Regions from separate parts of the Homo sapiens genome. Here region 2 is linked to region 1. Evidence: fine-mapped expression QTL. A gene starts in region 1. The other region holds a variant in brackets. All regions are shown on one strand. Distances are from middle to middle. Region 1 holds the start of EHHADH (enoyl-CoA hydratase and 3-hydroxyacyl CoA dehydrogenase). Region 2 overlaps EHHADH (enoyl-CoA hydratase and 3-hydroxyacyl CoA dehydrogenase).

What was found.
Region 2: its variant is fine-mapped to the expression of EHHADH in whole blood (TOPMed, PIP above 0.99).

What each region holds. Positions count from the first base shown.
Region 1 is chr3:185,249,435-185,266,200 of GRCh38, reverse strand. EHHADH (enoyl-CoA hydratase and 3-hydroxyacyl CoA dehydrogenase) reads left to right here and starts at 12,152. Exons shown (of 7, transcript NM_001966.4): 1 at 12,152-12,252. The coding sequence starts at 12,179. It overlaps MIR5588 (microRNA 5588), which reads left to right and starts at 12,929; the gene lies at 12,929-12,991.
Region 2 is chr3:185,206,831-185,223,596 of GRCh38, reverse strand. EHHADH (enoyl-CoA hydratase and 3-hydroxyacyl CoA dehydrogenase) reads left to right here. Exons shown (of 7, transcript NM_001966.4): 5 at 5,357-5,461. Among named protein-coding and RNA genes, the nearest start is that of MIR5588, 38 kb to the left of the region's middle. RefSeq lists an enhancer at 15,198-15,247. The variant G/A (reference allele first, on the strand shown) is at 8,109.

The DNA of each region.
Region 1 (16,766 bases):
CAGCTACTTGGGAGGCTGAGGCAGGAGAATTGCTTGAACCTGGGAGGCGGAGGTTGCAGTGAGTCGAGATTGAGCCATTGCACTCCAGCCTGGGCAACAGAGCCAGGGAGACTCCGTCTCAAAAAAAAAAAAAAAAAAAAAAGCAGTTTACTTTGCCACTTTTGCTCAGGTCTAAAGACAAGGCTTTGGTTAACTTGGGTTTGGTGTGAGATACTGGCAGGACTCAATGTCTTCTTCAGATGAGATATGTGTACCCAGGAGTCAAAGCCCTGTAACATAGCACAAGGATTAATTAATAACACCTGATAAGGACCCTTTTAAGGGGACAAGAAGGAGTCCTTTAACTGGTTTTCTTCCAGCATATGTAATTATGAGGCTTAAGGTGGTGATACTGGAGTTCATGGTCTGACTAGAAGCTGTAGAAAGATTCTACAGCCTTGCAGTGATTAATTTTTGTAGCCTCAATAAGCCCCGGTAATAAGACTGAGAGACTTAATTTAGGATGTTGATTTTGAGGACATTTGTTTAAGATGTAAACAGGCTCAAAACATTTGATTAAAACAGAATCACAGGTTATTGTAAAATAAGTCATACATTTAACCAAGAGTGATAAGTGATAATTAAAAAACCTCAAAGGCAATACAGAAAGTTAAATGGATGTAAAAACTGTAACCCTTTTAAATATCAGATGGTTTTTTGTTTTTTAAGACGGAGTTTCGCTTTTGTTGCGCAGGCCTGAGTGCAATGGCATGATCTTGGCTTACCGCAACCTCCGCCTCCCAGTGTTACAGGGTGAGTCTTTGTTCTTAGAACTCCCAAGATGGTGGCGGCTGCTCCCAAGATGGTGGCGGCCACTCCCAAGATGGCAGCAAGACTTTTGTTCTCTGACTTGGGGTTCTTTTCCTCATGGATAACAAGGAATAGAACCTTGGGCCATGCGGTGAGTGTTATAGCTCTATTAGAAGCCATGGGTCATGGAAGAGAACCATGGAGCCCAGCAACTAGTGTTCAGCTCATTTAGGACGAACCTGGGCACTTAGCCATGCAGGAACAATGACTTTAGCCTGATCGGGAGCAGCAATGGGCGCCTTGCTGGGTGGATCAGGAGCTCAGCCGACACCCTGCCGGATCCGGAGGGGTGGGAGTCAACAGCGGGTCTGCGACGGCGGCACTCAGCAGTGGTGGATGGCGAGAGAAAGCTCAGCTCGAGCCGGAACAAACACGGACCAGAAGAGTGTGCAGTTGCAAGATTTAATAGAGTGAAAACAGAGCCCCCATACAATGGGAGGGGACCCAAAGGGGGTTGCCCCTACCGGCTCGAATGCTGGGGGTTTATATCCCGATCATTGTCCCTCCCTGTGTGCTCTCAGGCGATACATGATTTGACTATTTCTTTACCTCCTGCTTTTAGCCTAATTTGTATTTTAGTGAGCCCTCTTTACTACCTAATTGGTCAGGTGTGAGCTGAGTTACAAGCCCCGTGTTTAACGGTGAGTGCGGTCGCCTTCCCCAGCTAGGCTTAGGAATTCTTAGTCAGCCTAGGAAATCCAGCTAGTCCTCTCTCACCAGGTTCAAGCGATTCTCCTGCCTCAGCTCCCAAGTAGCTGGGATTACAGGCATGCACCACCATGCCCGGCTACTTTTGTATTTTTAGTAAGAGACAGGGTTTCTCCATGTTGGTCAGGCTGGTCTCGAACTCCCAACCTCAGGTAATCTGCCCGCCTCGGTCTCCCAAAGTGTTGGGATTACAGGCATGAGCCACTGTGCTGGGCCTGTTTTGTTTTTTGTTTGTTTGTTTTAGCAATCAAAAACCTAATAAAGACAGCATAGGAATGATAAAATCTTATTTCTTAAGCCGGTTACCAAAAAGACAAAGAAAAACCTATTGCAGCGTGACTGCTTCTACTTATGGGAAGCCCATTTAGATAACCTGGAAGTCAAACTTGATAAAAGTGCTTGAATTTAATCAGACACAGAAAGAGTGTGTTCAAGGTTATGAGGATAGCAGGGGGAATACATGACTCTAAGGAATAGTATGAAAAGTTTTCTGACGGATGTGGTGGCTCACACCTGTAATCCCAGCACTTTGGGAGGCCAAGGCTGGCGGATCACAAGGTCAGGAGATCGAGACCATCCTGGCTAACATGGTGAAAACCCGTCTCTACTAAAAATACAAAAACTTAGCTGGGCGTGGTGGCGGGCGCCTGTAGTCCCAGCTACTCAGGAGGCTGAGACAGGAGAATGGCATGAACCCAGGAGGCAGAGCTTGCAGTGAGCCAAGATCACGCCACTGCACTCCAGCCTGGGCGACAGAGTGAGACTCTGTCTCAAAAAAAAGAAAAAAGAGAAAGAAAAGAAGAGTTTTCTGATTACATTGAAAATTTTGGCATATCAAGAAAAGCCAAAAGTACAGAATCAGGTTATGCTACAGGAAAACATTGCTTTTCTAGACCTTCAAGATAATACATTTTAGCATCAGGTCATAATAGTTAGAATTAGAGGAAATGAAAGAAAGTTACAGGAGCTGGCAAAAAAGCTGAAGGAAAGATCATCTCAGGCCTTCTCAAGCAGAAAAAAAGCTGAGAGCAGCAAAACTTGGCAAAAGTTGAACTTCTGAGATGTGATTCTGAGTTTTTAAAAGAAATAGGCAGGCTGGGCGCAGTGGCTCACACCTGTAATCCCAGCACTTTGGGAGGTCGAGGCAGGCAGATCACCTGAGGTCGAGAGTTCGAGATCAGCCTGACCAACATGGAGAAACCCCATCTTTAATAAAAATACAAAATGAGCCGGGCGTAGTGGCGTATGCCTGTAATCCCAGCTACTCGGGAGGCTGAGGCAGAAGAATCACTTGAACCTGGGAGGTGGAGGTTGTGGTGAGTCGAGATCGCACCATTGCACTCCAGCCTGGGCAACAAGAGCAAAACTCCATTTCCAAAAAAAAAAAAAAACATAGGCCAGGCACAGTGGCTCACGCCTGTAATCCCACTTCAGCAGTCTGAGGCGGGGGGATCACTTGAGGCCAGGAGTTTAAGACCAGCCTGACCAACATGGTAAAACCTCGTCTCTACTAAAAGTACAAAATTTAGCCAGGCGTGATGGTGCATGCCTGTAATCCCAGTTACTCGGTAGGCTGAGGCAGGAGAATCGCTTGAACCTGGGAGGTGGAGGTTGCAGTGAGCTGAGATCATGCCACTGCACTCCAGCCTGGGCAACAAGAGCGAGACTCCATCTCAAAATAAATAAATAAATAAAATTTTTTTTAATTAAAAATTTTTAATTTTAATTTTAATTACAGGTGTGGTGGCTCACGCCTGTAATCCCAGTACTTTGGGAGGCTGAGGCAGGAGAATTGCTTGAACCTGGGAGGCGGAGGCTGCAGTGAGCCAAGACTGTGCCACTGCACTCCAGCCTGGGCAACACAGCGAGATTCTGTCTCTAAAAAAATAAATAATATAAATAAAGGAAATAGATTATAAAATTGAAAGTAAAATTTTTTCTAATTTCAGTAAGAGCAAATCAATACCTTAGGAAAATCTTGTTTTAATATAGGGGACCAATCTTAAAAGACTATTATAAATAATTCCCTTTAAATTATAGCTAACTATGTGTGGTGCAACGCAGGGTGAACTCGAATGTGTTTCAGGTGACTTAAACCCTCTTTTTTTTTTTTTTTTTTTTGAGACGAATTCTCGTTCTGTCACTCAGGCTGGAGTGCAGTGGCGTGATCTTGGCTCACTGCAAACTCCACCTTCCAGGTTAAAGTGATTCTCCTGCCTCAGCCTCCTGAGTAGTTGGGACTACAAGTGTGTTCCACCACGCCTGGCTAATTTTTGTATTTTTAGTAGAGATGGGGTTTCACCACGTTGGCCAGGCTGGTTTCAAACTCCTGACCTCATGATCCACCCGCCTCGGCTTCCCAAAGTGCTGGGATTACAGGCGTGAGCCACCGCACCTGGCCAACCCTTCTTGTCTTATGCTAAATTTTTCCCTTACCCTATTCAGCTGAGGACAAGAGAAACTCACCCAGCCTCCAGTTCTATCATTACAGTTCATGGCTATCACTCTCGTGGAATGGGAAGCATGGGAAAGCGCAGACTTATCAAATTATAAGGATGCTAAAAGTCGGGGATTATACCCATGAACCAAAGGAAAGCTCAGAGTAGGGCATTGCCTCTGGAAGGAAAACATGCAAAGCAGCACCTGTGCCCACATAAAGTCAGAGATGTCTGACACTCAGATTGGACCCCAAAGGGGGTGCCCCGGGGGATCCTCTGGACCTCAACCTCTCCAAAGGAAACACCCTCGGCAGAGGTTCTGAGGCCTAGTACTAAGCCCTGCTTAGAATTTTCTCTGGCAGTTGCAATACTGTTTGGCCCCAATATTGTTTGGAATCTGGAGTTCGCTGTTGAATGGAAAAGTGGAATGGAGTTGCATGTATCCAGGCTTTTGGGCTGCTGTTTTAAGCAGGGTCAGGACTGGTTAGTATGTGAGGTTCTCTTTGGTGCTGTTCGGCCCCAGTGTTCTTTGGAATCTGGGGAGGTTTGGCCTTTAAATATCAAACTGCCGTGAAAACTGCTTTACCTGAAATTTTGGTTCACAGCATTGTATTACCTATTGGGGCAAACAAAGTAAAACTGGCAAGCCTATATTGCTATCTCATGGCTAGCATTCCAAGCTATCGGATCTTTGTGTGTGTGTGTGTGTGTGTATACATGTCTAGATGTGGTTATTTGTATGTACACTTATTGTTATATGATGTCTACCAAGTTGACATAAGTAAAAGAGCACTCATATATTAAGTAAATAAATCTAAGCAATTTCAAATTCATGTGACTTAAGTATAATTTACTAAACAAGTTTGTTTTAAAATTATTGATAAAATAAAAATAGGTATGCCTTCAGAACTGTCAGCATACATGTTGGTCTGGATTTTATGTTTGTCTTTGCTAGATACTTTGAGATGTCAGTGTTTGGCATAGAAGGTTATAAAACTATAACCCAGCCAAAACAAAATGATCTTGGTTTGAGTGCCTTTTTTTTTTTTTTTTTTTGACAAATGAGAGTAATTTAATATTATTTGCTAAATCTTCTGAGTTACTGGTAAAAATACCAATGTATTTAACTTTGAGGCTCTTACTTAGGTTTAGGTGAGCACCTGATGTTCACTGGCTATTGAAAACATGGTTAACAAGGAAACAACTAACTTTAAATGATAATGTCTAATACCTCAGTTTACAGAAGTAATCTAGATAAACTGTTAAAAAAGTAAAAGAATTAGCCAGGCACAGTGGCTCACACCTGTAATCCCGGCAATTTAGGAGGCCTAGGTGGGCAGATCACTTGAGGTCAGGTGTTTGAGACCAGCCATAGTGAAACCTTGTCTCTACTAAAGATACAAAAATTAGCCAGGCGCGATGGCTAGGCGCGTGTAATGCCAGCTACTCAGGAGGCTGAGGCAGGAGAATTGCTCAAACCTGGGAGGTGGAGGTAGCAGTCAGCCAAGGCCATACAACTGCACTCCAGCCTGGGCAACAGAGTGAGACGCTGTCTCAAAAAAAAAAACAAAAAACAAAAAGGGGAATGAACTGAGTGCAGTGAATGGAATAAATGTTTTAGGGAAACTTTTTATGTAAATTAAAATCTTAAAATTATTTGGGTTGTTCATTGAATATCTGGGTCATTTCCAATTAAGAAAGGTTTGTGATATGGGGAAATATGTATAATTGTATAATTGTTCTTATCTAAAAATGCCCATATCTGATAGTTCAGGATTTCTTGCTTTTTAGGATTTCATTAAAGTTTTAGGTTACTAAGGATAAGAATTCTAGTTAACACATAATTCTGTATACAAAATGTGCCTGAAAAAGTTGTGTTGTTTATGAGAAAAAGAATAATTTTGTCTAATTCAGAAGTTATCTAAAAGACAATCCTAAGCAAAAAGAACAAAGCTGGAGGCATCACGCTACCTGACTTCAAACTATACTACAAGGCTACAGTAACCAAAACAGCATGGTACTGGTACCAAAACAGATATATAGACCAATGGAACAGAACAGAGGCCTCAGAAATAACACCACACATCTGCAACCATCTGATCTTTGACAAACCTGACAAAAACAAGCAACGGGGAAAGGATCTCCTAGTAAGTAAATTATGCTGGGAAAACTGGCTAGCCATATGTAGAAAGCTGAAACTGGATCCCTTCCTTACACGGTATACAAAAATTAACTCAAGATGGATTAAAGACTTAAACGTAAGACCTAACACCATAAAAACCCTAGAAGAAAACTGAGGCAATACCATTAAGGACATAGGCATGGGCAAAGACTTCATGACTAAAACACCAAAAGCAATGGCAACAAAAGCCAAAATAGACAAATGGGATCTAATTAAACTAAAGAGCTTCTGCACAGCAAAAGAAACTATCATCAGAGTGAACAGGCAACCTACAGAATGGGAGAAAATCTTTTCAATCTACCCATCTGACAAAGGGCTAATATCCAGAATCTACAAATAAACAAATTTACAAGAAAAAAACAACCCCATCAAAAAGTGGGCAAAGGATAGGAACAGACACTTCTCAAAAGAAGACATTTATGCAGCCAACAGACATATGAAAAAATGCTCATCATTACTGGTCATCAGAGAAATGCAAATCAAAACCACGATGAGATACCATCTCACACCAGTTAGAATGGTGATCATTAAAAAGTCAGGAAACAACAGATGCTGGAGAGGATATGGAGAAATAGGAATGCTTTTACACTTTTGGTGGGAGTGTAAATTAGGTCAACCATTGTGGAAGACAGTGTGGTGATTCCTCAAGAATCTAGAACTAGATATACCATTTTACCCAGCAATCCTATTACTGTATATACCCAAATGATTATAAATTTTGCTACTATAAAGATACACGCACACGTATGTTTATTGCAGGACTATTCACAATAGCAGAGACTTGGAACCAACCCAAATGTCCATCAATGATAGACTGGATTAAGAAAATGTGGCACATATACACCATGGCATACTATGCAGCCATAAAAAAGGATGAGTTCATGTCCTTTGCAGGGACATGGATGAAGCTGGAAACAATCATTCTCAGCAAACTCTCACAAGGACAGAAAACCAAACACCTCATGTTCGCACTCATAGGTGGGAATTGAACAATGAGAACACTTGGACACAGGGCGGGGAACATCACACCCCAGGGCCTGTCAGGTGGTAGGGGGCTGGGGGAGGGATAGCGTTAGGAGAAATACCTAATGTAAATGATGAGTTGATGGGTGCAGCAAACCAACATGGCACATGTATACCTATGTATCAAACCTGCACGTTGTGCACATGTACCCTAGAACTTAAAGTATAATAATAATAAAAAAGACACATGCACACGTATGTTTATTGCAGCACTATTCACAATAGCAAAGACTTGGAACCAACCCACATGTCCATCAATGATAGACTGGATTAAGAAAATGTGGCACATATACACCATGGAATACTATGCAGCCATAAGAAAGGATGAGTTCATGTCCTTTGCAGGGACATGGATGAAGCTGGAAACCATCATTCTGAGCAAACTATCACAAGTTCTCACTCATAGGTGGGAGTTGATCAACGAGAACACATGGGCACAGGGAGGGGAACGTCACACAACAGGGCCTGTCGGTGGGTGGTGGCCTGGGGGAGGGATAGCATTAGGAGAAATACCTAATGTAAATGACGCGTTGATGGATGCAGCAAACCAACATGGCACATGTATACCTATGTAACAAACCTGCACGTTGTGCACATGTACCCTAGAACTTAAAGTATAATTAAAAAAAAAAAAGAAAAGGTTATTTATGAAACAATGTAGTAAGGAACCAGTAAGTAGGGGAGAGAAATGTGAAAAAAAAAAGTTTAGATAATAAAATATTCCTTAAAACCTGATAGAAAATTGGAGAAATTTGACTAATTAACATTTCATAGTTAGAGCTCTTAGTCTTGCCTAAAGTAAAATAAGAAATATAAGTATATTTTTTAATATACTTAAGCATGAAGCTGGTTAAGTATGGAGCTAAATTTCACATACATGCATGCATTGCTTCACACCGTTTACTGTTTTGCATGGATAGTGCTGGCACTGGAGTACTTATTGGTCATGTGCCTAGAGTGAATTTCTTGATTGTACAGGATGTATGATGATATTGGTGGACTTAAGGATATTGAATGGTGTATCAGGAATAAAATATTCATTATATGGGTGTTTGGGGGCCCTGAGTAACACTGTAGCCTCCAGGGTAGATTGAGTAGGAAAAATTTAGGGTGGGGTTCCTGTTTGTTTTTGCTTCTAATTTTCATTTGTTTGCTGTTTATTCTCCTCCAGGCTTTGCTTGTGGTCGCATAAATAGAAAACCATTTTTTTGTTTGTTGTTTTAGTTTCTAGTGGAAGGCTTTTATTTGGTTCTGTGAATAGTTATTTTATTTTCTATGCATTTCTACCAAGTCATCATTTGTTCCATTTATCTGGAATTCCTAGGCTACCTTTGTTGAGCTCACAGGAATTGGTGGAGCACACTAAGCTTTTTAACCTTAAACTAACTTTTTGGATATTAGGCTTCCTGATACTTTAAGTATATTGAGTATACTTTTGTAAATAGAACTTGAGTCATATTTCTCTCTCTCTGCCTAATTTCTTCAAAATTTGTAAATTGTTTGTGAATATTCTTAATTCATAGCAATGTGTTTGTTTGCATACAGTTGAGCAGGGTCACTAGGGCTGCTCATGGAGAGAGAACTCAAGAAAGCTGACATGCCGGCAAAAGGGTAAGAATTTCTTACCAGTTGGACTTCTGGCCCCTCTTTGTGCAAACTGGTTGAATGAATGGTAAAATATAATGAGAAGGCATGAGAATGTTAATTTTTATAAACATTTAACAAGCTTCCCAAAATCAAATTGCAGCTTCAAAATTGTCTTTTCTGACCTCAAACTTTGAGATGCTACAGCAGGCCCGTGAACCATCCAAAAGAGAGGTAAACAGGATTATTTGATATGTTTAGTTACATGGGAAGCATTGTGAAAATAAAAAATAATGTTTAATCATCTTCAGGTTATATATTAGTGAATGATATTAATATATGTTCCAGAATTGTATGGAATTTCTAAAATTCTAATATGTCTGAGTATATGCTATCAATCATAATTATTGTGTTATTGTAGACCACAGAAATAACCAAATCTCCTTGTCAATAGTGTTTTTAACTATCACTATTTAAAGTCATTTGAACTCCATGGTCTAAGTCAAATCAGCTATGAAAACCCATTAGTTATCAGTGCTATGCACCTAAATTGGAGAAACAACTGGTATTCAAGAGGACATAAGTCCAGTGTTAAGCATGGACTCATGGAAAACCAAGATGGCCACCTTGTTCTTCCTGAGTCCTTAAAGCTTTTGTTATTAAAGTTTCTGCATTCCGTGACTCATCATGGAAAAGATAAAATGATCCAGATTAAATATATACTGGTTTGCTGACTTATAAATTGCTAAAATAGTTTATAACCAATGTTTGGTTTACAATCAAAGCTTCAGGTACATTTGGCTACCTGATGGGCCATTTAAACATTTAAATTGTCATTTTATTTATTTATTTTTTTTTTTTTGAGATGGAGACTCGCCTGTTGCCAGGCTGGAGTGCAGTGGTGCAAGCTCAGCTCACTGCAACCTCCACCTCCCAGGTTCAAGTGATTCTCCTGCCTCAGCCTCCTGAGTAGCTGGGATTACAGGCATGTGCCACCACGCCGGGCTAATTTTTGTATTTTTATTAGAGACAGGGTTTCACCATGTTGATCAGGCTGGTCTCAAACTCCTGACCTTGTGATCTGCCCACAATGGCCTCCCAAAGTGCGGGGATTACAGGTGTGAGCCACTGCACCCAACCATCATCCTTCATTTACATAGGGCATACACCAGGTAACCAATGCAAACCTCTAGAGGGTATTGAAATCCCAGAAAATTCTGTAACTGGTCCCTTGAGCCACTTGCTCAGGCCTGCTCCCACCCTGTGGAGTGTGCTTTCATTTTCAATAAATCTCTGCTTTTGCTACTTCATTCTTTCCTTGCTTTGTTTTGCATTTTCAATTCTTTGGTCAAAACGCCAAGAACCTGGACACCGTCCACCCATAACAGTTTCGCTAGTTGCATGTGATTGTAAGACAAATAAAAATGATGTTGTGGGCTGGGTGCGGTGGCTCACGCCTGTAATCCCAGCACTTTGGGAGGCCGAGGCGGGTGGATCACAGGGTCAGGAGATCAAGACCATCCTGGCTAACACGGTGAAACGCCATCTCTACCAAAAATACAAAGAATTAGCCAGGCGTGGTGGCGGGCGCTTGTAGTCCCAGCTACTCGGGAGGCTGAGGCAGGAGAATGGTGTGAACCCGGGAGGCGGACTTGCAGTGAGCTGAGATCGCGCCACTGCATTCCAGCCTGGTCGACAGAGCCAGACTCCGTCTCAAAAAATAAAAATTAAAAAAAAAAAAAGATGTTGAGGCAGGAGTATAGGGCCTGAAGGCAGGGAACCTAAAGACTTTCTAGAACTAAATCAAATGGAAACACTTCAGCTATGACAGGAAATATTCTCTTCATTTACATAGGGTGTACACTGAGTAAATGACTTCGTAACTTCACTTCGTCCTCTTCATTTACATAGGGCGTACACCCAGTAACCAATGGGAAACCTCTAGAGGGTATTGAAACCCCAGAAAATTCTGTAACAAGGTCCCTTGGGCCTCTTTCTTGGGCCCACTCCCACCGTGTGGAGTGTCTTTTCGTTTTCAATAAATATTCGCTTCTGTTGCTTTGTTTTTCCCTTGCTTTGTGTGTTTCGTCCAATTCTTTGTTCAAAACGCCAAGAACCTGGACAACTTGCAGTCCAGACCCTCCTCTAGTAACAATGTTATATAAGTATTTGGTTGATGTTAGAGTAATCACTGGATGGGTTCTTCCTGCCTGCTGCACAAACAAAATCAATTCAGGAAGACCACAGCATTGCAGTAAGGAAAGAGTTTAATTGATGTGAGGCTGGCCACGCCACATGGGACATGGAGTTATTACTCAAATCAATCTCATCGAAGGCTAGTAGGTTAGGGGTTTTTCAAAGGTGGTTTGGTGGGCAGGGGCTAGGGTATGGAAAATGCTGACTGGTTGGGTTGGAGATGAAATCATAGGGGTTGAAGCTATCCTCTTGTACTGAGTTGCTTGTGGGTGGGGCCACAGGAGCTGTTGACTGGTCCAGGTGGAGCCATCAGTGTCAGGCAAACGTGAAAAAATATCTCAAAAGGCCAAACTTAGGTTCTACAATAGTAATGTTACCTGCAGGAGTAAATGGGGAAGTTGTCTATCTGGTGGCTTCCGGAATAATGGCTGGCAATGGTCTATGTTTACACCTTAGCAGAGAGAATTCACACTCCTCTGTCCTCCTAGCCTGGTGGTCTCTCGGTTAGCTTTACAAAGGCAGTTGAGTTTTGGGGAAGGGCTATTATCATTTAAACTATAAACCAAATGTCTCCCAAAGTTAACTTGGCCTAAGCTCAGGAATAATTAAGGGCAGCTAAAGGCAAGATGGGGTTGGTTAAATCAGATCTCTTTGACTGCCATAATTTTCTCACTGTTAGAATTTTTGCAAAGGCTGTTTCATTAGTACCCTACTCATTTAGGTGAAATGAACAATGTGTATTTTATGTGTTCCAGATGTGTATCAATATCACATAACTGTCAGGGAGGGCCCCAGGTATCTGTCCCTGTTCAGAAAGATCATGAAGATGAATACCGCGATGAGGACAGCTTGCCCGTCTCAGCGAACTCAGAACTTGTCCTCAGTAGCCAGCCCCTATGGGCCAAGGGGTTACAAACTTCGACTTGCCGGCAATTACAGCTGTTTTCCATCATTCTCCTTGCTGTACCTTCTGGTGGGAGCAGCATGGGAGTTAATAAAGGGAAAGCGACAAGCGTCTGTAGAGCGCCGGGTGGGGTCTCGGGAGAGGAGGGCTGGGTGGGAAGAGGCGCGGCGGGAGGCGGCGCCCCGGCTCGCATTGGCCCAGCCGGCGTCCCTCCTCTGGAGGAGGCCGGGCGCGCCCGGAAAAGTGGTTTGCCTGACGGCGAGAGGCAGAGGTGCCCTCGGTGATAGAGGAAACATGGCCGAGTATACGCGGCTGCACAACGCCTTGGCGCTAATCCGCCTCCGAAACCCGCCGGTCAACGCGATCAGGTAACGGGCTCGGTCGCCTCCAGCCCGGGGACCGTGCGGGCCTTAGCCGCCCTCTGGCTCCGGAGGCTTTGACTCTCCCCCGTCGGTTTAAACCGAGAAGGACACTCAAGAGTTGAGCAACTGGTACATGCCAGGAACTTTTTTTTTCTTTTCTTTCTTTCTTTTTCTTTTCTTTTTTTTTTTTTTTAACCTAGATTAGCTTGGTTAATCTTCGCAGGGAACTCTCGTCCCCGTTTTACTGATAAGGAAACTGAGGCTGAGGCTGAGACAGATCAACACTTAGGGAGTTGGCCTCGACCTGTCCTTCATGCGGAGCCCTCCTGCTTACTTGCAACTTTGGCTTTGCAGGCCGACTTTTTATTTTTCTTTTTTTTTTTTAATTATACTTTAAGTTTTAGGGTACATGTGCACAACGTGCAGGTTAGTTACATATGTATACATGTGCCATGTTGGTGTGCTGCACCCATTAACTCGTCATTTAATATTAGGTATATCTCCTAATGCTATCCCTCCCCCCTCCCCCCACCCCACAACAGGTCCCAGTGTGCAGGCCGACTTTCTAATCCAAAGGTCTTAACTTAGTTTGATGTTGGACTTTGATCCAGCCTCACTCCCCTTCTTTGAGTCCAGGCTGTCCTTACAATGTTTGGCTAAAGGCTTTAGGAATAGGGCAATCACTGGCATTAGTGGGACTTTTTTTTTTTTTTTTTTTAATGTTAAAAGTCCCACTAATGCCAGCTCAGTGATTAAAGCAGAATTTTGCCCTGGCCCGGAAACGCAAAATTATTTCTCCTGATTTGTTTAAACCTCAGGACTTTGGTGCTTCCAAGGAAGACTCACATCAGACTAAGCCTATGCAATAGCATTTTCTGAAAAATTGCACCTTATCTTCTTTTTCTCACTGGGGAGTATTTGCCTTGTGTGGTGCACTTTAAACATTAAAAAGTGAGATCAATGTTGCCTTTTTGAAAAGTAATGATTATTTGGTTTGGTCCTTCTACATCTCTTAAAAAAATAATTATATGTCAGCCTTGAAAAAGAATTACCTATCCACAGGGAATAAGATTAGTGGAAATTATAATTTATCAAGAATATATAAAGCATAGAGAGAAAGGTCTTTGGTCAAAATTCTTATAACATGCTGCTGAAGCAAAGAGACTGAAATGAGAAGACCTGCTAATTTTAATAGAATTTAAAAATCCTACTGTCATTGGATTTGATTTATCATTAGTATTAATATTAATTCATTATGAATTATTGCATTTAATAATGTCAAAAAATGCAGGACTAAAATCACATAAGGATGACATGTCTACTAACTTGCCATTCCCAGAATAAAAAGCAAAATATCTGTTATATTGGTTTTGACAAAGAAAAATGTAAGTAATATGATTACATGTCAATTTTGGACTGGTCTATATACTGATTAGAATTGCTAGATATTAGGACCTTAGGGGGAAAAGTTCCATACTCTAATACCCATGACTAGGAATATTTTCTGACAACTGTTTTTTTTTTTTCTTTTTTTTTTAAGCTCATTTGCTTGTTTTGAGACGGAGTCTTGCTCTGTCGCCAGGCTGGAGTGCAGTGGCGTGATCTCAGCTCACTGCAACCTCTGCCTCCCGGGTTCAAGTGATTCCCCTGCCTCAGCCTCCCGAGTAGCTGGGACTACAGGTGCGTGCCACCACGCCCAGCTAATTTTTTGTATTTTAGTAGAGACGGGGTTTCACCATGTTGGCCAGGATGGTCTCAATCTCCTGACCTCGTGATCCACCTGCCTCGGCCTCCCAAAGTGCTGGGATTACAGGCATGAGCCACGTGCCCAGCCTCTGACAATTGCTTTTAATATTTCTGGAATTTAACCTGCTCTCCTTGCCCACCCATGCAACCACCTGTGCCACCCCCATCCTCTTTGCAGGAGAAATGTTAGGGCCTACCTCATAAAGTTGTGAAGTTTAAATCAGCTGGAAATTATGAAGTGGCATTTAATAGATGTTAGTTATTCCTATTAGTCAGAAGACCTGTTCAAGCCCCAAAAACAGGCCCTGCTACTCAGGACCCACTTCAGTTTCATCAAGAAGATATTCTCCACTTGGGAATAAGTACTTCTCTGCCCTTTTTTGTCTGTCTTCTGAACTTTTTTAGGTAGAAATGGACATCCTAGGAGTTCCTCAAGTTTAACAGATTCCTCAATTTTTTTCTTACACTTTTTCTTTCCTCCCTTTCTTCCTTTTCCCCTTCCTATTTCTAATTTTATATGGGAAGTCGTCTCCTCCTAGCTGATTGAGAGATTCTTACTTGAGTGTAATACACACACACACACACACACACACACACACATATAAATTTTTTCCCCAAAACAAATAGTTTAAATCCTTCATTGCTAGTTTAGCCAGCCATGTTTGCTTCCATTCAGATAAACACCAGCCCTCTTTATAAGTATAGGACATGCCTGATTAATAGGCCTGTCTCCCAGAACAATGGCTTTCACACGATTGCTTTACTGTAATCCACAGAGTAAGAAAGCTCACGTTTTTACGTAGCAATTCAAGACACACTTACATACAAACACGTAACCGAAAGCAGTTTCCTAAAACAAAACCTATCCTTACTTGGTATATTGTTTGATATAGTCTATTTTCTCATCTCTTCTTTTTCTTTGAAAAAATCCTGGTCACAAGCCACAAACTTGATTTGATGACTTTTGGTTTAAAAAAAAAAACTGTCTAAAAAAAAAAGGAAAGACCTTCTATAGTCAAAGAAGCTGAAGAGTTTTGGTCAGTAGTCATGAAATGCTGTCTCTACTCCAGACTCTATTTCTTCATGCCTGACAGTATTAACAGGAGAAAATAATTTCATAACTTCTGCGGCCTTTACATTGCTATGACTCTCTCTGTCAGCTTGAATCTAGTAAAGTGCGTATCTGTTATAGCTATTTTCATTTTTTTCCTGTTTTTGATATTTGCAAAATTATGAACATAAAAAAGGAAGATAGGTTGAAATGGGAAAAGCTGGTTTCTTCTCCTCAGTGGCACTGATTGAGCTAATTTTGGCTAGTTTTGTAAGCATTGTTTATTCAGAAGGAAATGTGTGCCTTTTGGACTTTTTGATGTTATATAATGGTTCTGAATTTGCTTTTCATGGTCAGATTTGGCTTCTAATTAACCAGCTGAAGCCAAGAGGTTTTGTCTGATTTCATCTAGGTTAAGAGGTGAAAAGTAATTAGGTGTAAGGGAATCATTATAAATAAGGGCAAGTATCCTTTTTATTTCTTGGGGTTTTAACTAATAGTTGTTGGTCTTAACAATATGGCCTTTACAGAAGTTTGTTGTTGTTTGTTTTGTTTTAAAATTTATTTTTAACCCTGTGTACTAAAGAACAGAGATTTTACTCAGAATACTTGGAATTCCAAGGCAAAACTGATTGGAATCTGGTTCTGTGGTTTTTCCTTTTAAGCAGTTCCTCACCACTTGCCCTAGATTCTCTTATTGCTTGGTACTTATTAATCCCCTCCTTCTTCACAAATTTTCTCTCTTGGTCTTTGTGACTTTGAGCTCACTTGCTGAATCACTCTGCTGAGCTTGTCCCACTTCTTAAATGAAGATATATCCAGAGGATCTGCCCTCAGCTCTCTTTTCCTTTGGTAGACTCATTCAGTCTTGGTTTTAGCTATCTCTTCTGCAGATGACTTCCTCATATATTAAAACTTGGCAAAATCTGCTACATGCCCTATCTTTCCACTATCTTGCCTTTATATCTTATCTTAGTTAAGATTACGCTTGGCTGTCACTGACAGAATAGTGAAGATAATAGTGAATTAGACAATAAAAAGCTAATTTCTCTCACAGCAGTGCCCTGGAATGATACAGCTGCTCCACAATCAACAGGGGCCTCAATTATTTTCTCTGTCTATCTCTTGCTCTACCATCCTCAATACATAGCTTCTACCTCCTGATCCAAGGTGGCTGCTCCTGATCTAACCATCACTGGTGCCAGGAATAGGGAGGAAAGAAAAAGGGAAAAGCATACCCAAATCTTTAAGAACTCTTCCCCAAAGTTGCATATACCAAATATGCTTCCATCCCATTGGCTAGAACTTAGTTCCTTGTGCAGACCTTACTGTAAAGCAGGCTGGAAAATATAGTCTTTATTTTGGGCAACCATATTTTTGTGTTAGTCCATTTTCACACTGCTATAAAGACATATCCGAGACTGGGTAATTTATAAAGGAAGGAGGCTTAATTGATCACAGTTCCACATGGCTGGGGAAGCCTGGGGAAACTTACAATCATGGTGGAAGGCAAAGGAGAAGCAAGTACCTTCTTCACAAGGTGGCAGGAGAGAGGCATGAGTGCAGGGGAAACTGCAACTTATAAACCACTAGATCTCCTGAGAATTCCCTCACAGAACAGCAGCAGGGGGAAACCACTGGCATGATCCAATCAACTCCCGCTAGGTCCCTCCCTGACGTGGGGATCACAGTTTGAAATGAAGTTTTGGTGGGGATAAAGAGC
Region 2 (16,766 bases), 43 kb after region 1:
CATTTTTTAGTACTAGCACCTCAAGGCTCTCAGGCAGAAATAATTAATATCAGCAAATATTGTTCTATGACCAAAAGAAAGACACACAAAAATTCTTAAAACTAAAACAACTGCAACTCTAAAACCTATGAAAATATTTTATGACTTAAAAAAAAAGAAACATAAACGTCAGTCTGCTGAAACATTAAAGAAAACAAAAAATTTTAGAAAACTCACATTATTCTAAACTAGAAAAGAAAATATTTTGTTAAATAAGAACACCGTATTTAAAATCAAAACCTTAGCCAAAATAATTTCTTTTTGAAGCAATAAAAAGATGTGGTAGGATAGATTACAGAATCAACAACATAGAGGATAAAAAGAGACACATCTAAAGAATTCAGAAGAATTTAACAAAAAGATAAATAAAATGTAAATGAAGATAGCAGACATGGAAGATACATAACAGAGGTCTCTGCTTTGAATAATACGTGCTCCCAAAGCACAAGGCAAAAAAAATGAAAGCAATAACCAAAAGAAAAAATAGAAGAAATTCTTCAGACATTAAATAGCATCAGAGATTGTACTTTAACAAGCATGCCATTTTCCTGGAAAAACTGATGAGGAGATAATTCTTTGATGTGTCTTGGTAAAGATTTTAAACTTCCAGAAAATAGAATCCTGCAAGCTTCCCCAGGATAAAAACAAATAAAACGAAAGGTTACTTTCAAAGGAACTAAAATTATACCAGCCACAAGTAAATGCTGTGGAATATTCACATGCTAGGATGCTATGTAATATTTATGAAGAATGATGATCTAAATCTCAGGGTTCTTAAAGTGTGGTCCAGGGACTCTCGGGTGTGGCCTAAGACCTTTACAGAGTCCTTGAGATCAGATCTATTTTCGTAATAATAAGACATTACTTGCCTTTCTCACAAATGTGTAGTGGAATTTTCCAGAGACTGTAATATGCCTTGTGATATCACAACAGATTGAATGCAGAAGCAATAGGAGAATGAGAATGCAGCTGTCTTCTGTTAAATCAGACAGTAAATAAATTTGCAAAAATATAAAACAATTGCACTCTTCTCCCTAATTTTTAAATTTTTTATATAATTATTTTGCATAAAAACATTATGCTAACATGCAGTGAGTTTATTATTTTAAAATGAACTAATAAAGAAACATTTTTAAAGCTTGCAGTGATTTTTCTTTTTTTATTTTTATTTTTCTGAGATGGTATCTCCCACTGTCACCCAGGCTGGAGTGCAGTGGCACGATCTCGGCTCACTGCAGCCTCCGCCTCCCAGGTTCAAGTAGTTATCCTGCTTCAGCCTCCCAAGTAGCTGGGTCCACAGGCTCGTGGCACACCCAGCCAATGTTTGTATTTTTAGTAGAAACAGGGGGCGGGGGGCACCATGTTGGCCAGGCTGGTCTCAAACTCCTGACCTCAGGTGATCCTCCTGCCTTGGCCTCCCAAAGTGCTGGGATTACAGGTGTGAGCCACCACATCCGGCCTTGTGATTTCTACACCCAGACAAAAGCTTGCAGTTTTAATTTCTAATACAGTAAATATTGATATATATAACCTACATAAACACAAGCTTTTTGGAGTTCTCCATAATTTTTAAGAGTGCAAAGGGGTCCTAAGACCCGTTTGATAACTGCTAGTAGAAATCCGTATAGAAACCATGATATAAAATTGTGTATACATTAGCCAAATTAGAAAATAATGTGAGGCGGGCCGGGCACGGTGGCTCATGCCTGTAATCCCAGCACTTTCAGAGTCCAAGGCAGGTGGATCACCTAAGGTCAGGAATTTGATACCAGCCTGGTCAACATGGTGAAACCTCATCTCCACTAAAAATACAAAAAAGTAGCCGGGGGTGGTGGCATGGGCCTGTAGTACCAACTACTCGAGAGACTGAGGCAGGAAAATCGCTTGAACCCAGGAAGCAGAGGTTGCAGTGAGCCGAGATTGCGCCACTGCACTCCAGCCTGGGTGACAGTGAGACTCCATCTCAAAAAAAAAAAAAAAGAAAAAAAAATATCATGAGGCTATATGCATTAAAAATGGATTTTTCCTTTAAATGGGGGGATGATTTTATAAATCTGTAGTGTATAAAAGGAGAGTTAGACCAGAAATATGACATTTATTTCCTTCAATAAATCAAGTTAGATAGTTTTAATTTATAATGGTATAATAAATACAGTTTAAAGAATGTGAACTATTTTAAGTATGTAATGTCAAATTCATAAAAGGATGCTTAGGATCCAACATACTACAGGATTCAAAGCACATGAGACAATTTATTGTGCAAAAGACAAAATAGGAAGCAAAGAAGCCTAAAATATAGGAGGAAATCATAATAGTGTAAAATGAGTCTGTAAATTTGAGGGTTTACAGATACTTAAAGTATATGGGGGAATATTGAATAATTTTGTTGCCCTATTTGCAGTATTGCCTGAAACCAAGATTATTGGAAGAAATCAGGAAAACTGGCTTTGACAAAAAGAAATAAAATGAACTAGGATTGGCCTTTTCCCAAAGCACTGCTTAAAGAAACATCACTATTTTTAACATGCAGAAAAGAGGTAAAAACAGTAAGAATATGATGGGGTTTTGATTTGCATAGAAAAGGTCATAGTGAATTAGAAGAAAGCTAACATTAGAATTATACACCTGTCTTTTTAAGTAGTCTGCACAATTTTAGGAAAACTTGAATATGACATTTGGAAAGAGTTCCATGTGGAAAAAAATTGTAAAGGTTAGAAAAGAAGCTATCAAGAAAATTGGAAAAAATTGAGATTACTCAGGTTGGAGAAGAAACTCTCAACCTCAGTTCCCTTAGGGCACACAGGGTTCTTATTAGAGCCCATTGGACAGTGGTTGTCATCTACACTTACGATGTCATAAGAAAAAACAATTTTAAATTACAGCCTAAGAATCTGGATTGGATATACAGAGCCATGTCTTTAGATCCTTAGTTCTTTGATACAGGATAAAAGTCCAGCTATGCATCATTGAACAACGAGATATATTCTGAGAAATCATTAGGCGAGTTTGTTGTTATGTGACCATCATGGTTTACTTACACAAACCTAGATGGTATAGCCTATTACACACCTAGGCTATATGGTATGGCCTCTTGTTCCTAGGCTACAAACCTGTGCAGCATGTTACTGTACTGAATACTGTAGGCATTTGTAACACAATGGAAAGTATTTATGTATCTAAACACATCTAACATAGAAAAGGTACAGTAAATATATGATATCGTAATCATATGGGACCACCATCATATATGTGTTGTTGACAGAAATGTTATTATATGGCATATGACTGTACTTGGAATCCCATTGACTCTGTTAGAATAGTAGTGGTACTCTTCCAATTTTGTGAAATCCAAGCCAGAAGAAATCATTACAGCTAGAGAAATTTTTAGTCTATCTGGGAGTAGCTCACATTCTCCCTGCTTAGTTGACCTCAAAATCCTTTTATAATAATATCCAGGTTTCCATGTCCCATTTTGTGTTTGCTTGGTTCCCTTAACCTGGGTAGGCTGATTCACTCTCTCCTTACCAAAGTGATTTTATACACAGGATACTTATGTACAGAAACCATTTATGTACCTCTTACCCTACTCCTTACTCCAGAAGGAGATCTGAAAGCCTGTTTTCAGAGATACTTCCAGAAAACTGCCCAAATACTGCTTTTCAAAGAGAGACCTACCAAAAAAAAATCACTGAACTTTCTATCCAATCAAGAAAACTCATTTGTAGTTCTCTGAAGCAATAATAAGAACCAGGAATGGAGGGTTTGTCTCCGATGGCATCCACCAACACTGTAAGTGCAGTGAAGACTGTGGGACTGTTGCCACCAAGATGGATTTGATGGTTGCTTTTCAGAAGGCAAGATGGTACTGGCAAGAAAGCAAGCGATGTGTCACTGTCTTCTTCCTTCTGACCCTGGGGTAGGGGATGCTGATGTCCCCTACCTCTTACCTCAGAATATGCAGATCAAATTGCATATTTACAACTGGTGAAGAACTGTCAAGGCAAATTTAGGAACGGTGCAAACCCTCATCAAACTTCTATATCTCCTATTGCTGACATTCTGTACTGGAGGATGCCAATGGCATGATTGGATGCTAAGTATACCAGCACCACCACTGCCAGACACTAGATATTGGCACCTGTGAAATGAGATTTAACCTGTCGCTGCTGCTTAGTGTCACTAACTCCAAGCTAAAAACCCTCAACAGAGCACTCAGTTCACTAACTGGGGTCATGGGCCACACTCCAGCTGCCACAGTCAAATTGTCAATTGTCTAATCATCTGTGTCCTTTTCAGCTTCTGTAGTAGAAGGCAGGGCTTCAAAGCTCACACAATAGCAATTCCACAAACTAAGGGAGGAGCTGAGATGCTGGGTAGCCAAAAACTGGCAGAAATCCATCCCATTTGTCCTAGGTAATTTTAATTATACCTTATAGAATGTCAACTTAATTTTTTTCTCATTGAGTTAACTATATTTATGTCTGGGGACTATCTTTTTTTTAAATTTTCTCTCTCTCTCTTTTTCTTTGTTTTTGGAGATGGAGTCTATCTCTTTTGCCCAGGCTGGAGTGCAGTGGTGTGATCTCAGCCCACTGTAATCTCCACCTCCTGGGTTCAAGCGATTCTCCTGCCTCAGCCTCCTGAGTAGCTGGGATTACAGGTGCCCACTACCATGCCCAGTTAATTTTTGTATTTGTAGTAGAGACAGGGTTTCACCATGTTGGCCAGGCTGGTCTCGAACTCCTGACCTCAGGTGATCCACCCGCCTTGGCCTCCCAAAGTGCTGGGATTACAGGCGTGAGCCACCGTGCCCGGTCCTTTTTTTTTTTTAACCATCCACAGCCAATGGGGTGTGCTAGGGATAAGGTAGATACTATATATTACTCTGCTGCTGCTACTTCTATTATTATTATAAAAAACTAAACATCTCACATTTCTATAGAGATCTGTAGTTCATAAAGTACTTCTATAGAGATTTATAGAATATAAAGAGAATCTGTTATTCTCACTTAATACTCAGAATTACTGAGATAAGCATAATTATTGCCATTTGCCAATGAGGAAATTGTGGTCCTGGTGCAGTTCTTCATGGTCACACAAATAGTGGAAACTAGAGCTGGAGCTTGAATCCAAGTTTCCTGGTTACCTCAGTGGTGATCTTTCTATTCTTTCAGTGAGTGTGGTTCTTACTTATTTTATTCAATAATAGATATTTATATCCAGACAGACAGCCTTTCCTACTAGAGAGAGTAATGCTTTTGCTTTAATCTTACATCGCTCTTTGATTTGTTGTTATTGTTGTTGTTGTTTATTTCAGGAAGACGTATTTTAGCAGATGAAGCACTCAAGCTGGGCATTCTAGATAAAGTTGTAAACTCAGACCCGGTTGAAGAAGCAATCAGATTTGCTCAGAGAGTTTCAGGTAAGAAGATAATAATAAAAATAGCCAAAGACTGTAAACAGGATACATGTTCATTTAAATAAGAAACTCCTGGCCGGGCGCAGTGGCTCACGCCTGTAATCCCAGCACTCTGGGAGTCCGAGGTGGGCGGATCACGAGGTCAGGAGATCGAGACCATCCTGGCTAACACGGTGAAACCCCGTGTCTACTAAAAAATACAAAAAATTAGCCGGGCGTGGTGGCGGGCGCCTGTAATCCCAGCTACTCGGGAGGCTGAGGCAGGAGAATGGCGTGAACCCGGGAGGCGGAGCTTGCAGTGAGCCGAGATCGCGCCACTGCACTCCATCCTGGGCGACAGAACGAGACTCCGTCTCGAGAAAAAAAAAAAAAAGAAAATCCTGAGGCTGGGTAATTTATAAAGAAAAAAAGATTTAATTGGCTTACAGTTCCGCAGGTTGTACAAGCATGGTACCAGCATGTGCTCAGCTTCTGGTGAGGTCTCAGAGCTTTTACCCGTGGTTGAACGTGAAGCAGGAATAGGCACGTCATATGGCAAGAGAGCAAGAGAGAAGTGTGGAGGTCCCAAACTCTTTTTTTTTTTTTTTTTTTCTGAGACAGAGTCCCGCTCTGTTGCCCAGGCTGGAGTGCAGTGGCGCGATCTTGGCTCACCACAACCTCTGCCTCCTGGGTTCAAGTGATTCTCTTGCCTCAGCAGCCCAAGTAGCTGGGAATACAGGCGTCCGCCCACCATGCCCCGCTAATTATTGTATTTTTAGTAGAGACGGGGTTTCACTATGTTTGCCAGGCTCATCTCGAACTCCTGACCTCGTGATCTGCCTGCCTCGACCTCCCAAAGTGCTGGGATTACAGGCATGAGCCACCGCGCCTGGCCCCAAACTCTTCTAAACAAGCTGATCTCTCATCAACTAAGTGAAAGCTCTCTTATCACCAAGGGGATGGTACTAAACCGTTCCTGAGGGATCAGCTCCCATGACCCAGTAACCTCCCACCAGGCTCCCACCTCAAACACTGGGGACCACATTTCAACATGAGATTTGGAGCGGACACACATCTAAACCATATCACAGGCTCTATAATTTACCGCAGTAAAACTGTGGGCCTTGAGAACTTCTGTCTCCGCAAACTGAGTTATGTCCTTCTCTCAGTGGTTTCTTACTTTATGGACTCGGGATGTTCCTTTCAGAGTTCTTTCAGTGGCACTCACAGAGGTTTTTTTGTTTGTTTCACAGTTTCTTTTCAGTCTATGGATGTTGTCATCTTTAAATGAGCAAGATGGAGAGGGTAAAAATAGCCAGAAAAAAATAATTGGGAAGAGTATTGCGTTACAGGCAGAACAGAGTGCTGGTCTCCCGCTTGGTGGCAGGCAATGGCCCAGTGTCATTCAAAGGCATTCTTTTGAAGGAGTCATTCTTTTGTTGACCTTGGCAGAGACCAAACACTTTCCTGAAATAATCTTTCTTTTTTGTGGCTCTAGCCAGTTACTGTTTCAATGTGAAAGTAAAAGCTTGAACTGGAGAGGGGAGGAACGATGGGGAGAAAATAATGGAGACCCCTAAAGAGAATCAGCAAGTCCTTGCCCAAATAGAAATAAATTTCCTACTATTTTTCTCGGCCTTTCAGGCAACCTTCACTGTGTTTTCATCATTGTGCTTCCCGAGGGGGCTTATTGTTTTGTTAGAAGTCACTTGACAGACACACAGCAAAGGCTATTTGCATTTGGAGGTCCCGAAATGATTCTTTGGTTTGCTAAAGGTAGACCCGTGTCTGTCATTCACATCTGTAGTTTTAGTTTGTAAAGGTCTCAATTTCAACAGGAAGTTCTTTTCCTTAAGTGATTTCCCTAGATTCTGATTTGAGAATTAAGTTACTTCAAGAAATAGTTGAGGTTCATGATCTAGGAGACCTGGATCCAGGTCTCAACCTTAGCTACATTTCTAAAATGGTCTGGTTATAACTTTAATTTATTCACAATTTAAAATTAATTGTAAACATTAAATTAAGCATTTTTACTTTATAAAACTTACAAAATAGTGTTTCATCTCAACGACATTATACAGTTTGTCCACTTGGTGGCATCCAAATATTGAGGCACCATTTGCTTTAAACCTGTAATTCACCTTTTAACACTTCAGGGCTTTAGACAATTATGTGTTACTATTTTAAATTATAATCATGAAAACTATATAGAAAAATGTAAAATTGTGATATAAAAATGTGTAGAATATAAATGTACATGTATTTGCAATTATACAGTATATAATCGTGTATAGAGTAATGATCATTATCTGGAGTATGTATGAATACAGATACAAATGGAAAGGAAATAAGCAAAAATGAAAATGTTAGTTTTTCTCCAAAATTTCTTAAGTGATTTTTGCTTTTGTTTTGTTTTATTCTCCAGCTTAGGATAAGTTAGTTTTCTCAAACATTTCTAAATTATTTTTGGTTTTGTTTTTATTTTTTCCAGCTGTATTGAGGTGTAATTTCTACAGATAAAATTCATGCATTTTAAGGGGGAGTTTGGTGAATTTTGGTAGTTGTTTACAGTTGTATAACCATGGCCACAATCAAAATATAGTTCTATCACCCTAAAAAGTATTCTCATACCCCTTTCCCATAAATCCTTTTTTCTTCCCCTTGGCCGCAG[G/A]CAACCAGTGACCTACTTTCTGTCATACTTTTATGGTTTTTTTAGAATCTCATATGGATGAAATCATGCAGTAGTATATAGTCTTCTGTGGCTGGCTTTATTTTGTATAATGTTTTTGAGAGCCATTCCTATTGTTGCATGCATTAATATTTTGTTCCTTTTTATTGACTTGTATTCCACATTGTGGGTAAACCACAATTTGTTTATCCATTATCAGTTGATGGACATTTAGTTTGTTTCCACTTTGGGCCTACACAAGTCTTTGTAGACATAGTTTTTCCTTTTTCTTGGGTAAATACCTGAGAATAGTATTGCTGGGTTGTAATAAGTGTATGCTTGACTCTTAAATGCTTTTTAAAATTTATTAATAAAAAAATCAGTGATTTAAAAGACACTAATTTTTGCCAAGCAGATCAGAACAGATGGAACAAATACGGTGAGACTGAGTTTAAATAAGCTCTCATTAGAATGCTTGTAATACATCCTGTCTAGAAGGCAGCTGGACAATCACTTATAGAGGCTTAAAATTACTCATACCTTTTCACTTAGTTTTTCTATTCTTAGGAATTTACCATAGAGAAATAATCACATAAATACACAAAGATTTGTATACAGTAATACTCACTAAAGCTTTTAGATTATCATAAAATATTGGAAACAACTCAAATATTTAGTTCTGGGAAATTAATTATGTAAAAACGATAATCTCAATGAACTGACTCCATTCAGCTATTACAACTTCCATTTTTAAAGAAAGTTGAAGAACTTGGAAAATTGCTTACATATAGTATTAAGAAGAAAACAGCCAGGTAGAAAATTTTACAAGTGTGTGCGTGTGTTCTTATATGTACCTGCATAAGGAAAAAACTATAAGGCGATGTAACAAATTTTCAGTAGTGGTTGTACTTGGGTGGTAGGTAATCTAGACTCTTGATTTGAAAAAAAATTTATCTTTTCCTAATATCTAAGTCATTAAATTTACCCCCTCCCCCAAAAAAATGGATGACTTTGGGAGGCCAGTGTGGAAAGGACGCAGTCTGTTAGAGAAATGGGCTCAGGACTGGAGGTCAGGAGAGACAGAGGTCTCAGCTTTAGCTACGGGACCTTAACAAATCATCTTTGGGGCTTTGTTTTATGTATTGGTAAAAGAAAGGGTTCAACAAAATTAGCTGGTTTCAAATCATGTTCTGAGACCTCACAGGCTACAGTGGTTGGGTGCTTAGTTATTTGTCCTTGCAACAACTCAAGCAAGGTTTTGGGGTGTAATGTGTGTTTTGGGGTTTAATGATTAGAATCCCATGGAAACCCTAGGACTTTTACTGTTTTTTCTTTTTTAAATGAGTTCCACTGTTTGAAATCCTATGATTTCTTGGTGCTGCTTTGTAATAGACAAACGCTGGAGATCAAGGTAGAGAAAAAGACAGATCAACCAAGGATTAACTCAGAATCTTGTCAACATTTGCCATTTATTCTCTTACCAAATTTATAATTTAAGGAGGCCTATTTATTTGCCTTTCATTTTCATTTGAGGTATTGTGCCTATCTTTTCTTTTTGTGCTTCCCCACTTTCCTCTTTTTTCTCTTTCTTTTTTTCTTTTTTTTTTTTTTGAGACGGAGTTTCGCTCTTGTTGCTCAGGCTGGAGTGCAATGACATGACCTCGGCTCACTGCAATCTCCTCTTCTCAGGTTCAATTGATTCTCCTGCTTCAGCCTCTGGAGTAGCTGGGATTACAGGCATGCATCACCACACTCAGCTAATTTTTGTAGTTTTATTAGAGATGGAGTTTCACCATGTTGGCCAGGCTGGTCTTGAACTCCTGACCTCAGGTGATCCACCCGCCTCTACCTCCCAAAGTGCTGGGATTACAGCCGTGAGCCACCGCACCCAGCCTCTTTGTTTTAAATACAGTGGTTAGTGTGTGGTCATTTAGCAGAACAAAATTGATGGATTAACTTGAAGGAAAGTTTCCACAAAAATTCAATATGTTAATTACATTAAATATATATGCATTTATTAGAAATCTATAGTTATGGAAAGCTAGAGCAATTGTCTTGATCTAGAGCCATGGTCCTCAAACTTCACTGTGCATCAAAATTGCTTTTTGGTGGGCTTGTTAAAGCACGGTTAGCAGGGCCCCACTCATTACTTTCTGATTCATTAAATCTGGGGTGGGGCCCAAGAATTTGTATCTCTAACAAACATGCTTAGGTGATGTTGATGCTGTGTTCTGGGGACCACACTTTGAGAACCATTGATATACAGAGAACAAGGGTAAGAAAGGAGATAATTTTTGCTAGTTTTGATTTTTTTTACACCTGACACGCAAACACTACCTATAGTCTTTTTTTTTTTTTTTTTTTTTTTTTTTGAGACAGAGTCTTGCTTCTTCACCCAGGCTGGAGTACAATGGTGCAATCTTGGCTCGCTGCAACCTCCGCCTCCTGGGTTCAAGCAATTCTCCTGCCTCAGCCTCCCAAGTAACTGGGATTACAGGCACAAGGCAGCACACCCGGCTAATTTTTGTGTTTTTAGTAGAGACGGGGTTTCACCATGTTGACCAGTCTGGTCTCGAACTCCTGACCCCAAGTGATCCACCTGCCTCTGCCTCCCAAAGTGCTGGGATTACAGGCGTGAGCTACCGCACCCAGCTGCTATAGTCTTAAAGATATTTTTGTAAATCAGTTATGAAAGGCATGGTTAAAATGCATACACATATGGTTGCACAACCTTGTGAATATTCTGAAAAACACTGAACTATACACTTTAAAGTGGTGACTTTTGTGGTATGCAAAGTCTGTCTCTGTCTTAAAAAAATACATGTTGAATTTTTGTATTCCCTTTTCCCATTTGTAACCATATTCCAATTATTCAGCCTATTCTCACTCCCACTGCTCAAATGTTTGCTTTAAAACAACAACAACAACGAAAGAAGAAGATGAAGAACATTTATTTAGTTTCTACTTCTTATAGGAAAGGAGGGAGAAAAGGGAATTTCCAATGGTCAAGGTTCCAATCAGCACTTTTGGAACCAATTACGAGTGGGAAGGGAGTGTAGAAGGTTAACATACCTAAAACGCAATTTGGGACTTAGCGGCACATTTCTCTACAAACTTAACACTGTATCCTGGTGAGTTGACTGTGGAAGTTCATTAGCTTTATGCATTTTAATGTTCGTATTCTATGAAGCCTCCCAGACTACTGCAGTGCAATGGATTTAGCAGTGCAATGCAGAATTACTTGGCCAAACCAGATTGCATTGGCTAAACTAGGGAGGGGAGCATCCTATAAAATGCTATATATTTGCACATGCATGTGGCTAGCAGCCTGCCTGTTTCTGAACTAAGAACTCCTGTTCTCATGTGCATGTTTCTGGCATGATGCTGAATGTGTGTGCTGTTATTCAAAGACCAAGAGACTAAAGGCTCTCTCTCTCTCTACCTTCCCCAGCTGGAATGGGCACAGGGAATTATCCAGCTGGGAGTGTCAACTCTGGAACCTAATGCTCCGTTTTCCTTTCTGTAATGAACCCTGGTCCTGTTCCTGTGGCTGTGCTGGGCTGTGTTAGCCACTTTTAACAATTCTAATTCTGCCTAAAGACCTTGGTCTATTTGTTCTTTTGGAGTTGTGGCTTTTAAAAAACCTTAGTGGTTTTATTTGTCTTTCTCTTCATTTTATCTTCTTCACTTTGTAATTTATTTTTACCCGCTGTGAACATTTATATGAACATGTTTCAAAAGAGCAGAGTGACCTGCCTTACATAGGAGGCCTACGCACATGTCTAAATTGAGCTTCCTTTTTACCTGCTAGACAAGTTCTGTGGGTCACCTTCTTGAAGCCTGTTAATGTGCAGTTATTCTGTCTGTCCTTTGCAAAGCTTTTATGATGGACACAGCTTTCTGTTTATCAGGGTTAGAGAGAGAGAGAGAGACAGATTCCTTGATGTCTGTGTTCACGATTTCCGTGAACCGCATGTTGAGTCTCTCTTTAGCCTAGGCAGAGAAAATCTTTTCCTGCCATTACAGCAGAAGAAGAAGGGAAAATAATCACCTCCTTTTGTTCCTTCAGAAACGTGACTCACTTATCTTTTTTATCAAAAATGTCATAGAATACCTCATAGAACTAAGAAAAAATGTGAATGGGTCAAGGAAAGAATTCAATTAATAGTATATTTGAATCACTGATTACTTCCTTTCCTCCCCATTTCCCTGGGCAGCCAATGCTGATGCTGACATACTGACACTTGCCTCTCTTATTGTATAGGTACTGCTGAGTGACTTGAAAACTACCAAGTATACAAGAAATACACTTTGAAAACAACTGTACTTATACACCCAAAGGGGAAATTCTGAATATCTTATAACTGAAGTTGTAAGATAACAGCATCCTTAGTTATAGCTGTAGCAAGAAAGAGATAGGAAATTGAGCAGGGAAAAACCATCTATGATTGTGCCCGGATCCAAAATTTTCCAGTGGGTATGCTTAGTTTGGCCCTAGGACTGGTCTAGACAAGTGCCTTGGATAGCTCCCAAAATGCCCATATGCAGTCTGCGAGGTTTTCAGTGTCCCCGGGATAATAGGATTATGCTGATCAGAACTAATTACTGCACACCATTAAGCAGGCTTTCTTTTCATTTCAGTTTTGTTCTCTCCTCTCTTTTTTTCCCATCTTTTCTTTTCAATCTCTGGCCTAAAATGAAATTGCCAGGAACTGCAGCTGTCCTTGATTCAGTGGCGGACAACACTCTCTGCTCTTGGAGCTCCCAGAGGCTATACCTTAAAATCAGCTTCTGAACTTTTCAAGAATAGTCTTACTAGGCCCCACCTTTAAATATTCCCTTTTTTTTTTTTTTTTTGAGACAGAGTCTCACTCTGTCGCCCAGGCTGGAGTGCAGTGGCACAATCTCGGCTCACTGCAACCTCTGCCGCCCAGATTCAAAGCGATTCTCCTTCCTCAGCCTCCCGAGTAGTAGCTGAGACTACAGGCACCCACCACGCCTGGCTAATTTTTGTATTTTTAGTAGAGACGGGGTTTCACTATCTTGGCTGGGCTGGTCCTGAACTGCTGACCTCATGATCCACCTGCCTCGGCCTCCCAAAGTGCTGGGATTACACTGTGCCCGGCAAAGATTCTTAACTGAATCTATGGTGAGGCCTGGGCATGGCTACTCTTAAAAAATTCAGCAGTTAATTTTGAGGTATGATGTGGGCATCTGAACTTCGTAAACTCTTCAAATAAATCTGATGTGTGCTATGATGTTGAGAAGCACCCCCAGGAATGCTGGGAACAGAGGTAGTATCACAAGACAGAGATCCAACTCTAAGATATCCCAGCGCTGTCTATGCCCTGTTACATGGCATAGATTGCACCGGCAGCCCAGCCTGCCTTCCTCCTCCGCTTGTGCCTCCATGCTCTTGTTCTCTCCTTCCTCTCCCCATTGTCCATTCTTGTCTTCCTTTTAGGTCACCGGCACATTAAATCATCTGTAGACCCTGGGGGAGTCCCCATTCTTCTCTGCTGAGTTTGCTTTCCCTTAAATTGAGGATTGGGCTAACTCTTTGGGTAATTGAGCAAGTAATTGGTGGGCCTATTGGATACGGTTCATGTTTTTTCAAAGTAGTAGGGTGAGAGGGACCACATGCCTATAACCACTGTCTTCTCTCCATTCCTGAATCCTATTCTTTAACATCATATGGGAAATCATTAATTCAGAAACTCATTCTTTCCAACACTACTTACTAATCAAGCATTAAGAAAATATTCTTGTCTCTTTGATTTAAAAAGGAGGCTGAGATTATACAATATATCTATATTACCATGTGCACATGATTACATCCAAACCTTACTCACGTTCCCTTGGACACGCCTAACACACCAATGCCAGAGGGGCTCAATGCCAGATGCGCTTATGTTCATATGTCTTTTTATGGTGAAACTGCTCTGGTATAAGCCCTGGTAGGCTTTCTGTCTAAATAACTAAGATGTACATTTTTGATAAAATGGTTTTATTTTTTAAGAGATGCCAGTACATTATAGAAAACAACTTCTGGTATAGCTGAAGTTTTGGTAACTGTAAGTTGTTATGAATTTATTATTTTATGAAAACTTTGGAATCATTCTGTAAAGTTATTTTTTAAAATAGTACCATAAGGATTCTTATTAAAATTTCATATATAATACATATGGAAAATATATTTTTATGCTATTAAATATTTATATCCAGAAGCATGGTGCTTTTCTGTTTTTATTAAGGTCTTATTTTATGTTCTTCAATAAAATGGTATAGTTATCTTCTGAAAGGTCTTGTACCTTTCTTGATAAATTCATTTCTAGATACACTTTAACAGTTTTAATGAGGCGTGATTTGCCTTATAGATTGTGCAGCCATCCCCATAAATCAATTTTAAGACTTGTCCACTCCCACAAAAAGTTTCTTCATGCCCATTAACACTAACTCCTACTCACATCCCCAGCCCTAGGCAACCACTGATCTTTCTGTCTCTATAGATTTGCATTTTTTGGACCTTGGATCTAAATGGCATCATACAATATGTAATGTTTTGCATCTGGCTTCTTTTAGTTAGCATAATGTTTCTGAGGCTCATCTGTATCTGTATTGTAGCATGTATCAACAGTTTGATCCTTTTTATTGCTGAATAATATTCTATTGCATGGCTCTATCAAATTTCTTTAGTCATTCAACAGCTGATGGATGTTTGGATTGTTTCCAGATTTTGCTATTATAAATAATGCTGCCATGAATATTTGTAGACAAGTTTTCTTTATGGCATATGCTTTCATTTCTCTTGTGTAGATTCCTGGGAGTGAAATTGCTGGGTTGAACAATCAGTTTATGTTTATCTTTTTAAGAAACAACTAAACTGTTTTCCAAAGCAATGTGCTGTTTTACACTCTCAGAAGCAACGTATGAGGCTTCTGGTTTCTCTACATCATCACCAACATTCAGTAGTGATGGCTTTTTATTATAGTCATTCTAGTAAGTCTAACTGCATAACAAATGACCCCAAAACTTAGTGGCTTAAAATCAAACATTTATTCCACAATTTCTGTGGGTCCAGAATCCAAGTGTCCTAGGTCCTCTGGCTTTCAGATTTCAAACAAAGCTACAATCAAGGTGTTGTCTGTGGCTGTAGTCATCTCAGGTTGATTAGGGGTCAGGGGGAGAATCTGCTTTCAAACTCACTCAAGCGGTTGTTGGTAGGATTCAGTTCCGTATGGGCTGTTGTACTGAGGGCCTCAGTTCCTCACTGACTGTGGGCTGAAAGCCTCCCTCAGTTCTTTGCCACGTGGGCTTCACCATAGGGTGGCTCACAACAGGGCAGCTGGCTTCCATCAGAGTGACCAATTTGAGAGGGCAAGAAAGTATGAGCAAGACTGAAGCCAGAGTCTTTTTGTAACCTAATCTAGAAATGACAGCCCATTACTTAGAGTCTGTCTACCACATTTGTTGCGGTTTTAATTTGCATTTCCTTAATGACTAATGATGTCGAGCATCTTTTTGTGTGCATATTAGCCATTCACATATGCTCCTTGATGAAATAACTGCTCAAGTTTTTGCCCGTTTAAGAAATTACATTGTTTACCTAATTATTGAGTCATAAGAGTTTGTTACATATTCTGGAAACAAGTTCTTTATTTGATATTTGATGTGCCAATTATATTTTCTATTGCTGTGCTAAAAAATTACCACAAGCTTAGCAGTTTAAATCATCCGAAATTATTTTCTTACAGTTGTGTAGACTAGAAGTATTGTAGAGGTCTCCCTGGGCTAAAATCCAGGTGTCAGCTGGTGCACTCTTTTCTGGAGGCTCTAGGGGAGAAACTGTTTCCTGCTTATTTGGGTTGTTGGCAGAACTCAGTACTTTGCATTGTGGGATCAGAGTCCCCATGTTCTTGCTTGCAAACTTGCGACCTTGTAAACCTTAAAGGTCAATCCCAGCTTCTAGAGAACACTGCATTCTTTAGTTCTTGGTCTCCTTTCCTCATATTCAAAGCTACATCAGTGCCAACAGGTCGAGTCCTTTGCATGTTGCATTTCTCTAACCCTTCTTCCTTGTTGAATCCCCCTCACCACAGTCAGGAAAGATTCTCTGCTTTTAAGGACTCATATGATTAGATTGCACTCAATCAGATAACACAGGGTAATATCCCCATCTCAATGTCTAATTTTTTTTTTTTTTTGAAATGGGGTCTCACTCTGTCACCCAGGCTGCAGTGCAGTGGCACGACCTTGGCTCACTCACTGCAACCTCTCAGGCTCAAACGATTCTCCCACTTCAGCCTCCAGAGTAGCTGGGACCACAGGGGTGCGCCACCATGCCCGGCTAATTTTTTGTATTTTTGGTAGAGACAGAGTTTCACCACGTTGCCCAGGTTGGTCTCAACCTCCTGAGCTCAAAGCAATCTGCCCACCTCGGCCTCCCAGAGTACTGGAATTACAGGCGTGGGCTACTGTGCCCAGCCAAGGTCTTTAATCTTACTCTCACCTATACATCTCTTTACCATGTGAGGTTATACATTCACAGATTCTAGGAATTAAGACATGAACATTTGGTGGGGGGGGTGTTATTCTGACTACCACACAAGTATTTTCTTCTAGTTTATGGCTTGTCATTTCATTTTTTTTTTTCTGTTTTTT